Regions from separate parts of the Homo sapiens genome. Here region 1 is linked to region 2. The links come from fine-mapping of genetic effects on gene expression. A gene starts in region 2. The other region holds a variant in brackets. All regions are shown on one strand. Distances are between the middles of the regions.

Region 1 (4,000 bases), 17 kb before region 2:
CTCGTCCGTGCTTTGGGAAACGTTAGCCTGGTGGGTCCCTATGAACCCTGGTGATGTTAGAGGACCCAAGAGCCTCCCAGATCCCAGCTCTGGGCACCTGGGTTCCAAGACTCTAGGACCAGGCCCCTCCTCGATCTGCCGTTCTCCTAGGCCTTCTCTGAGGGCAGCCTGCATCGGCAGCACTTAAGGACCCCACAACCTTAAAGGACTCCACATGGACTCACTCTCAGTGCCCCCACCCACAGCAGAGGCCGTCTGGAACCCAGAGTCAGCTGGCCTTCAGCAACCCAGCAGAGACCCAGGAGCGACAGGGAACCAAGAGGGGGCCATTCTGCAGCCAGAAGTGCTGAGTGCCCCGCCTGCTGTGGACCCAGCGGTCCTCACCCAGGGTCAGGGCTGAGACCTGGCAAGGTAGAGATCCCAGAACCCCTGGGCTGAGTTCTGAGGGAGGCAGCCCATTGCCAAGGGCACTGCACAGGCTTGGGTAGACTCCAGGCTATATCACTCCCCTTGCGACCTTGAGCAAGTCACTTAACCTCTCCTCTCCCATCAACCTCCCAGTATTAACTGAGGGCTTAAATCAGACAATGTGTGTCACACGTTCTGCCCAGGGCTGACACTCTGTGGTCAGTGGTCAGTGATGGAAGCTACTACAGTTACCACCTTGGTGGTCTTTTCCTACCTGTGGGCAGCCTCCCTGGACCTGCCTAGTCAAGGCCAAGGGCTGCTGCTTGACATTCAGGGCCCCTCAAAGCCTGGCCTCCCAGCTCTCGCCAGCCTCCCATCCTCATCCTGACATCCAGCTACACCAGGTTCTTGACTTCTCTGAAAGGAACTGTCTTGCCACCATGCCTTTGCCCAAGCTTTTCCTGATGCCAGGAATGCCTTTCCCCCTGCTTCTGGACATGAATGAACTTGATCTGCTTGTGGAAGAAGTATTTACTAAGCACCAACTCTTCCCAGACTCATTTGGTAATGAATATGACATAGATCCTTTCCTCAAGGATGCCCTAGTCTAATGGCTGGATAAAGCTACCAATCATTATAAATCAATGACCCAGCTGTTCTCACTCCTGGCCTAGCCCCAGGAAGAGCACAAGCCTTGGACACCAGCTGTGTGACCTAGGTAAGTTATCCAACCTCTCTGGGCTTCATGTTCCTCATCTGTTACAAAGAAATGATAAGGCCAGGCGCGGTGGCTTACACCTGTAATATCCCAGCACTTTGGGAGGCCAAGGCGGGCAGATCATCTGAGGTCAGGAGTTTGACACCAGCCTGGTTAACGTGGTGAAACCCTGTATCTACTCAAAAAATACAAAAATTAGCCAGGCATGGTGGCGCATGCCTGTAATCCCAGCTGCTCAGGAGGCTGAGGCAGAATTGCTTGAACCCAGGAGGCAGAGGTTTCAGTGAGCCGAGATTGCACCACTGCACTCCAGCCTGGGCGATAGAACGAGACTCTGTCTCAAAAAAATAAAATAAAATAAATTAAAATAAAATAAAATAGAAATAATTACTACTTCAAAAGGCTATGATGAGGCTGGGGGTTGTTGCTCATGTCTATGATCTCAGCTACTCTGAGGCCAAAGTAGGAGGATCCTTTGAGGCCAGGAGTTTAAGACCACCCTGGGCAACATAGTGAGAGCCGTCTCTACCAAAAAGTAAAAAAATTAGCCGGGTGTTGTGGTGCATGCCTATAGTCTGAACTACTTGAGAGGATCACTTGAGCCCGGGGGTTTGAGGTTACAGTGAACTATGATTACACTGCTGCACTCCAGTCTGGGTGACACAGTGAAACCTTGTCTACTTAAAAAAAAAAAAGGCTATGGTGAGACTTAAATAACAGAACGTAGGCAAAGTGTTTAAAACATTCATAGATGTGTAATCCCAGCAATTTGGGAGGCTGAGGCGGGCAAATCATGAGGTCAGAAGATCAAGACCATTCTGGCCAATATGGTGAAACCCCGTCTCTACTAAAATACAAAAAATTAGCTGGGCGTGGTGGTGCGCGCCTGTAGTCCCAGTTACTTGAGAGGCTGAGGCAGGACCTGGGAGGCAGAGATTGCAGTGAGCCAAGATTGTGACACTGCACTCCAGCCTGGCGATAGAGTGAGGCTCCATCTCAAAAAACAAAACAAACAAACAAAAAATTCATAGATGAAGCTAAGTCCCCCGCTTGTTGCCCAGCAAGTATTGGACCAGACGGAGTGAGAAGGCCTGGGTTCTCACTCAAGCTCTGTCCTCTATGTGCTGTGCAAACTTGGGCAAACTATTGCCCCTCTCTGGGCATCAACTACAACGTGAGGACCTCTCAGGGTCCTGCCAAGGCTGAATGATATGTGCTACGGTAAGTACTCAATAGGTTCTTTCATTTCCTCCTGCCTCTCACGCTCTGCCATGTCCCACCCACCCTATAACCCCCAAAGATAGAAACCTTCCCAGAGACCCAGAAAGCAGGGCCT[G/A]GTGTCTGTGGTTAGGGCGGCGTGACTCGCCCTGTGTAAGATCAACTGTGGTGTCCAGGGCAGTCTCCCCTCACTGCCACCCCCTAAACTATGAGTCGGGAAATGTCTGGTGTGTCTAGATGCCAGCATCCGGCACAGGGTGGGCCACACAGCATCCCTCAGACGCGGTTTCTTGACCTAAATGGAACTGTTCTGGCCTGCCCTGGCCTCACCTTCTTGGGGAACCTGTTGCTGAACCCTGCCTTACTTCCTGGGTGGGCTCTGACCACACAGAGGCAAACGTCATCACCTCAGTGTGTTTCCCGGTTGTCAACAGCTCTTCCACCTCCACCCAGCAAACCCTGTCCCTGCGTGCAGTGCCGTCATGGGGTAAACAGCTCCATATGGGCATGGCCCTTCCCGGTTGACAGAGCCTCCCACTTCACACCTCAGAGGGCAGCCCGGAGGGGATGATCAGCCCTGCTTTAGGGGCTGTGCTTGTCCAGCACCCGCCAGCAGGCCCCGTCATCCTTCTTGGTGAGGCTGTCAGTCCCTGCAGGCACTGGGGTCACTTCTCTCTGGGTCCCCACTCTGCTTTGCTCTGAGCGGTCCCCACCCAGCCCGTCCTGAGCCTGCTCTGCCGCTTGCCCTCGCCCAACTTTCTTCCCGCTCCTTCTGAGCCAGCTTCCTCCATTTTCAAATGAGAAGGACAACGTGGGCGACAGCACATCAGCGCATGGCCTAGCAGCAGGCTCATGGCACATGGTGGGCGTTCAGGCAGTGAAGGCAGCCTCCTGTGTCTTTCCCTGGGCTCCGGCTCAAGCCACGGGGTGGGACGATGGGGGCTGAGCCTCTTCCTGGGGAGCTCAGTGCAGACAGCTTGTGAGTGCTGGGTGCTGCAGCTCTAAAGGAAGGGAGCCTGGTGCTCCTGGTGCCTGGGTCTCCTAGGCTGGGACCCTGGGGTGAGCCCTGGAGCTACCCTGGGTCTCAGTCTTTCCATCCTCCCCAGAAGGCTCAGGGAGAAGGTGCTGTCAGAGCACCTTCCAGACGAGGCTCAGACTCCCCAGGCGGCCCAAGGGTAAATGAGAAACAGATCCAGAGGCCCTGGTGGGCCCAGAGCAGTGTGAAGGCCCAGGGGCCCGCCTTGGAGGCTGACGCTGGGACAGGAGCAGGCTGCCATGCGTACTAGGGAGGCCACCCGCCCACAGGGGCTGCAGGCAGAGATCACAGGCGGGAGGCAGCAGATTCCACTCCCGAGGAGGGCCATGCGGTCATCTGGTAATTAGTGGTAATGACCGTTTCCAAATAAATCCCCCTTGGGGAGGTAATCAAGGATTAGGATGGGAGGTGGGGGAGTTCTCCTTGTGGACATCTTGCTCGCTTCACTCCAACAGACCCCTAATTGGAAACATTTCGGTTTATCTGGGGGTGGGGGCCTGGGGGAGAGGGTGGAAGAAAGGACAGGAGGGAATGCAGAGTTCACAGGCGAGGCCCGAGCTCAGGGCCCTACCGGGGTGGCAAGGCCTCCTCTCATTCAGGAGTTGGGGGCCTTGCTGGGA
Region 2 (4,514 bases):
CCAGCTGCTTGGGAGGCTGAAGCAGGAGAATCGCTTGAACCTGGGTAGCAGAGGTTGCAGTGAGCCAAGATGGTACCACTGCACTCTAGTCTGGGTGACAGAGCAAGACTCATCTCAAAAAAAAAAAAAAAAAAAAAGCGACAGTGTTTTGCTCCACTTTTGCTGTGTACAGTCTCTGTGGCATCATCCACAAGCACACGCCTCTCCCTCCCATGTCTGCGGGTTGGCTGGGGGCAGCTGGCATGGGCTGGACTCATGGGTCCCAGGCTCCTGGTTGGGTTTGGACCTGCTCCATAGATGACTCTTTCTAGCCTGGAACCAGCACTCCCTGGGCCATGCTCTTCTCACCACCAAACCAGCCTGTGCCATAGGACGAGCCATGAATGTGAATGAAGGAAGACCACAGGTACTCTCCCTCTCCCGACCCCAGGCCACCTGGCAGATGCTGGCTTCCCAGAACCATTTTTGTTTTGTTTTGTTTTGTTTTGAGACAGAGTTTCGCTCTTGTTGCCCAGGCTGGAGTGCAATGGTGCAGTCTCAGCTCACTGCAACCTCCACCTTTTGGGTTCAAGCGATTCTCATGCTTCAGCCTTCCAAGTAGCTGGGACTACAGGTGCCCACCACCACACCCGGCTAATTTTTGTATTTTTAGTAGAGACAGGGGTTTCACCATGTTGGCCAGGCTGGTCTCAAACTCCTGACCTCAGGTGATCCACCCACCTTGACCTCTCAAAGTGCTGGGATTACAGGCATGAGGCACTGCACCGGCCAGAACCATTTTTTGAGATCCCTCATCCTGGTCCTGGACACATCTCGAGGGAGGGCAGGGCAGGGCAGAGGCCGTCATCACCATTTCCCATTTCTCATTGGTTACAATGAGACTAAAGCGTACTGCTTCCACCACCAGGGTGCTTTTAGAAAGGCCTTTCTGAGAAGACACATGAACAGGGGGTCTGAGCAGAGGAACCCAGCCCAGCTGTTTCTGGCATGCCCTGTGAGGCCAGATCTTCCAGGCAAGGGTGGGGTAAGGGGACAAAATAGCAGCAGGCCTGTCATCAGAGCACCTGGGCCTGGCTGTCAGACTCACCTCCTCCACTTACCCACCGAGGGACTCCGGGGAAGTCACTCAGCCTCTGGGATCCTTAGTTTCATCATCTGCAAAACAGAAAGCCACGAAACCACTCCTTCTCGATGTTATTGAGAAATAATGTTGTAAGAAGTCATATTGGTTGAACAAGCACCTACTGTGTGCTAGGCAGTTTCTGTGCCTATGCCTGAGACAGGCATTGCTCTGCAGATAAGCACACTGGGCCAGGTCTGTCAGGTAATTCATACAAGATCTCTCTGTCAGTGAGTGGGCCTGGCTGCAAACCCCGGGTCTGTGGGTTTCTGGAACCTCTGCCCACTGCCCAGGGTAGGGTATGTCTTCCTCCTCCCCTTCAGTTACCTCAGGGGAGGTATTGTTATTTTACAGGGCTCAGGGAGCAGGCCTGGGGGCACCACGGAGAGATGGGAGGTGTCTTTCCTGGGTGCACATAACAAAATGCCACCCGTCATGTCTACTGAGGGCGTCACATCTGAAAGCCTGCTTTCAACTCTCAGTTGTTTAATCATGGTGGTGGCTGCTCAGGAGACAATGTGTGTGTTTCTCAGGCCTCTTTCAGCTCCAGGAGAGAAGAAACCCAACCCCAACCAGCTTCAACACCAGAGAAACTGGTTCCTGCAGGAGAAACTGGGGTGGCTGGTGGCCCTACTGCACTCAGGAGGGCTCAGGGCTGGTGCTGGTCCCCTGGAGATGCTGTGCTGTCTCAAACTCACTTCTCCTTCTTCCTCCTCTCTTTGAACTCACCCGGGCCTCATTTCTCCCCATTGGGATGCAGCCACCAACAGCCCCAGTTAGAAATTCCAGTCAAATGAGACCTCTGTCTCCTTGGGCCTCTGAATCAGTCCCAGGGAAGGCGGCTGATTGGCCTTGTTTGAGTCACGCACTCTCCCTCTGATGGACATCTGTTATTGCCACGGGAAACTGGCTCTGGGCATGGCTGGGTGCAGTGCCTGTCACCAGAAGAGGAGGCATAGGAAGCAGTGGGCCACAGGGGCATTTGTGTCAGGATGGCAGTTTCTTTTATGGTTGGGCCTCTGCTTCTCTGATATGTGTACAAATCAGCGTCTCTGCACCTGGGAGAAGAGAGGCGGCATTGTCTGAGTTTCACCCCATCACACGCACACACAGGGCCAGAGACCTACCATGCTCAGTGCCCCGACTGTACACATAGAGAAACTGACGCCGAGAGAGGGGTCGCACATCACTCGGTTAGTGGTGCAGGAGACAGATATCAGGTCTCCTGACATCCAGGCATAAGCCATGCAGTTATTTGTCACTGGTTCTGAAGCCTTTCTGAGCAGGCCAGTGAGGCAGCTTTTTAGTAGCACCAATTCCTCCCATCCCAGAACATAAAGACTCTTTGGAATGTGACTCCATGCAAAAGCGAAGGCTCTGTCCCCACCCCTCCATCTGGGCTGACCTCATGGCTTGCTTGACTAGTAGATGTAGCCTGTGTTCTGCTGCCCAGGACTCGGGGCCTTGCAGCTTCTGCCTTCACCCTGTTGGGGCCCAGCCCAGCTGCAAGGTCAGAAGCCCAGGCTGGGGCAGAGAGAGGCCTTGCTGTATCGGCTGGCCCATCAGTCAAATGCAGCCACGCGAGCGAGCCCAACAAGGTCAGCAGAGCTGCTGGGTCAGCCCACAGAAGCACGAGAGTCAATTATGGCTTTAAACTACTAAATCTTGACATGGTTTGTTATGTAGCAATAGAGACAAGAAGCAGCCAGGCTTAAAGAGTGAAAAAGCTAAATATATACACAATTATTTGTCTAATGTCATTTCAGAATCTTAGAATCTTACCGTTGGGCCACCCCCTCTCATAACCCCAAGGTGCTGGCCACCAGAGGCCCTGTAATGTCTCCACTGATCTGGGGCAGCATGTGGCCAGTGATAGCTCTGTCATGTGCTGCTATGTCCCCAGTACTGCACCAGGGCTGGACAAACAGTAATTGCTCCAAAGTTGCCAGGGATTGGAGCTCACTCCCTCCAGGATGGTGTCTTCCATTATGAATGGCTCTGTCTTGGAGAAGATCCTCCTCCGTCTAGAGCAGAGACCTCTGATTCCCCCAGGGGTCCTGGCTGTCTTCCTGGGGTCCCCTCTTATATAGGATAGCCTTAGGCACATCACGATGGTCCCTAGCATTACAAAGCAGCACAACCTCACTTAATAACAAGTATTTTTATGTACATGGTGTCCCCGGACACAGATATAACCCTAAGGGAAGTGCTTCCACCTGGCCCTAAAACAAGCATGGGCTCTGGATCACACAGTTTGGGGTTGCAACTCGAAAGCAACTTCTGTTTGGCCTTGGAAGAGACACTTCATGTCTCTGAGCCTCAGTTTTCTCACCTGAAAAATAGGAGGAGTGAAATTTATTGCCTGGGTTGCTGTGGGGCTTAAAGGAGAGATGATGTATGTAAAATGCTCAGCACGTAATCGGTCCTTGATAAAGGTTAGTTCCTTTTCTGCCAGGTACGTAAACAGTTCCAGATGGAGAGCTCATCTGTACTTAGCATTCATGTCTATATAAATAATGTGCAGGTGGGAGAGGAATTGTCAGGTGGCCGGGGAAGGGGGAGGGCGTTCCCAGCAGGGGAACAGTGTAAGCAAAGACAAGAAGAAGTTTGCTTTCAGAGAAGGGTAAGTGGGTGGTTCGGTGCTGCTGGCATGAAGAGCAACAGGAGGGAGAATAACGGGAGAGGAAGCCAGGCCCATGCCACGGAGGGCCTTCAGTGCTGGGCTAGGGAGCTTGGGCTTTGCCAAGAGAGACATGGAGGAGGTCTGAAGAGGGAAGGGGTAAGGTCAGGTTTGGGATTCAAGTCTGGGGCAGGTCTGGGGTTGGATGGGGAGGTGAGGGGAGATGGAGCTCCTGGAAGCCTATGAGGGGAAAGTGGGGTAGCAGCAGGAATGACTTGGGCTAGTGGAGGGGAGGGACAGCCTGGCCACTAATGCAGCAGCTGAGCCACCTGCATGGACACATCTGTTGTGGGAAGCAGGGCCCTTAGTCCTCTGGTCTAGCACCTCTGCTCTGCATCTTCAGTGCCAAGCCCTGTTGGGAAGAGCACTTTTTCTGTCCTTTTCAATCCAGGAACAGACTGTGAGAGGGAGAAGACCTGGGCTAGATCTGTAGCCAGAAGGATGCGGGGTAGACCAGAGGGGAACTGACTTACCTGTCTGTTTGGTGGGGATTCAGAGAAGTCCCTCTCAAGGTCCGTTTGCTCATTTTATTAACCATCCCAGACCTCAAGTTGAGCTTTCCAGTTTTCTAAGCCCTGCCACAGTTATGGGCAGGCTCCTTTGAGACTTGCCACTGGCTTGAGAGGGAGGCTGGGCAGAGGTGATTAGCTCTGTTGTTAAGATGGGGAGACCTAGGCCCAGAGAGGGCAAGTGACTTACCCAAGACCACACAGC

Which allele goes with the higher level. Alleles are on the strand shown, and positions count from the first base shown. SD is a standard deviation of normalised expression in the study named.
As copies of G replace A in region 1, the expression in breast of the gene that starts at base 1,953 in region 2 goes down (small effect, 0.29 SD a copy in GTEx).

What was found. PIP is the estimated chance that this variant, and not a neighbour inherited with it, causes the effect.
Region 1: its variant is the best candidate, but not a certain one, in a credible set for the expression of LINC02761 in breast (GTEx, PIP 0.65).

Annotation. Positions count from the first base shown.
Region 1 is chr11:76,197,666-76,201,665 of GRCh38, forward strand. The region is part of intron 1 of WNT11 (Wnt family member 11); the gene reads right to left. Among named protein-coding and RNA genes, the nearest start is that of WNT11, 6.8 kb to the right of the region's middle. The variant G/A (reference allele first, on the strand shown) is at 2,463.
Region 2 is chr11:76,214,138-76,218,651 of GRCh38, forward strand. LINC02761 (long intergenic non-protein coding RNA 2761) reads right to left here and starts at 1,953. Exons shown (of 3, transcript XR_007062785.1): 1 at 1,850-1,953; 2 at 1,088-1,155.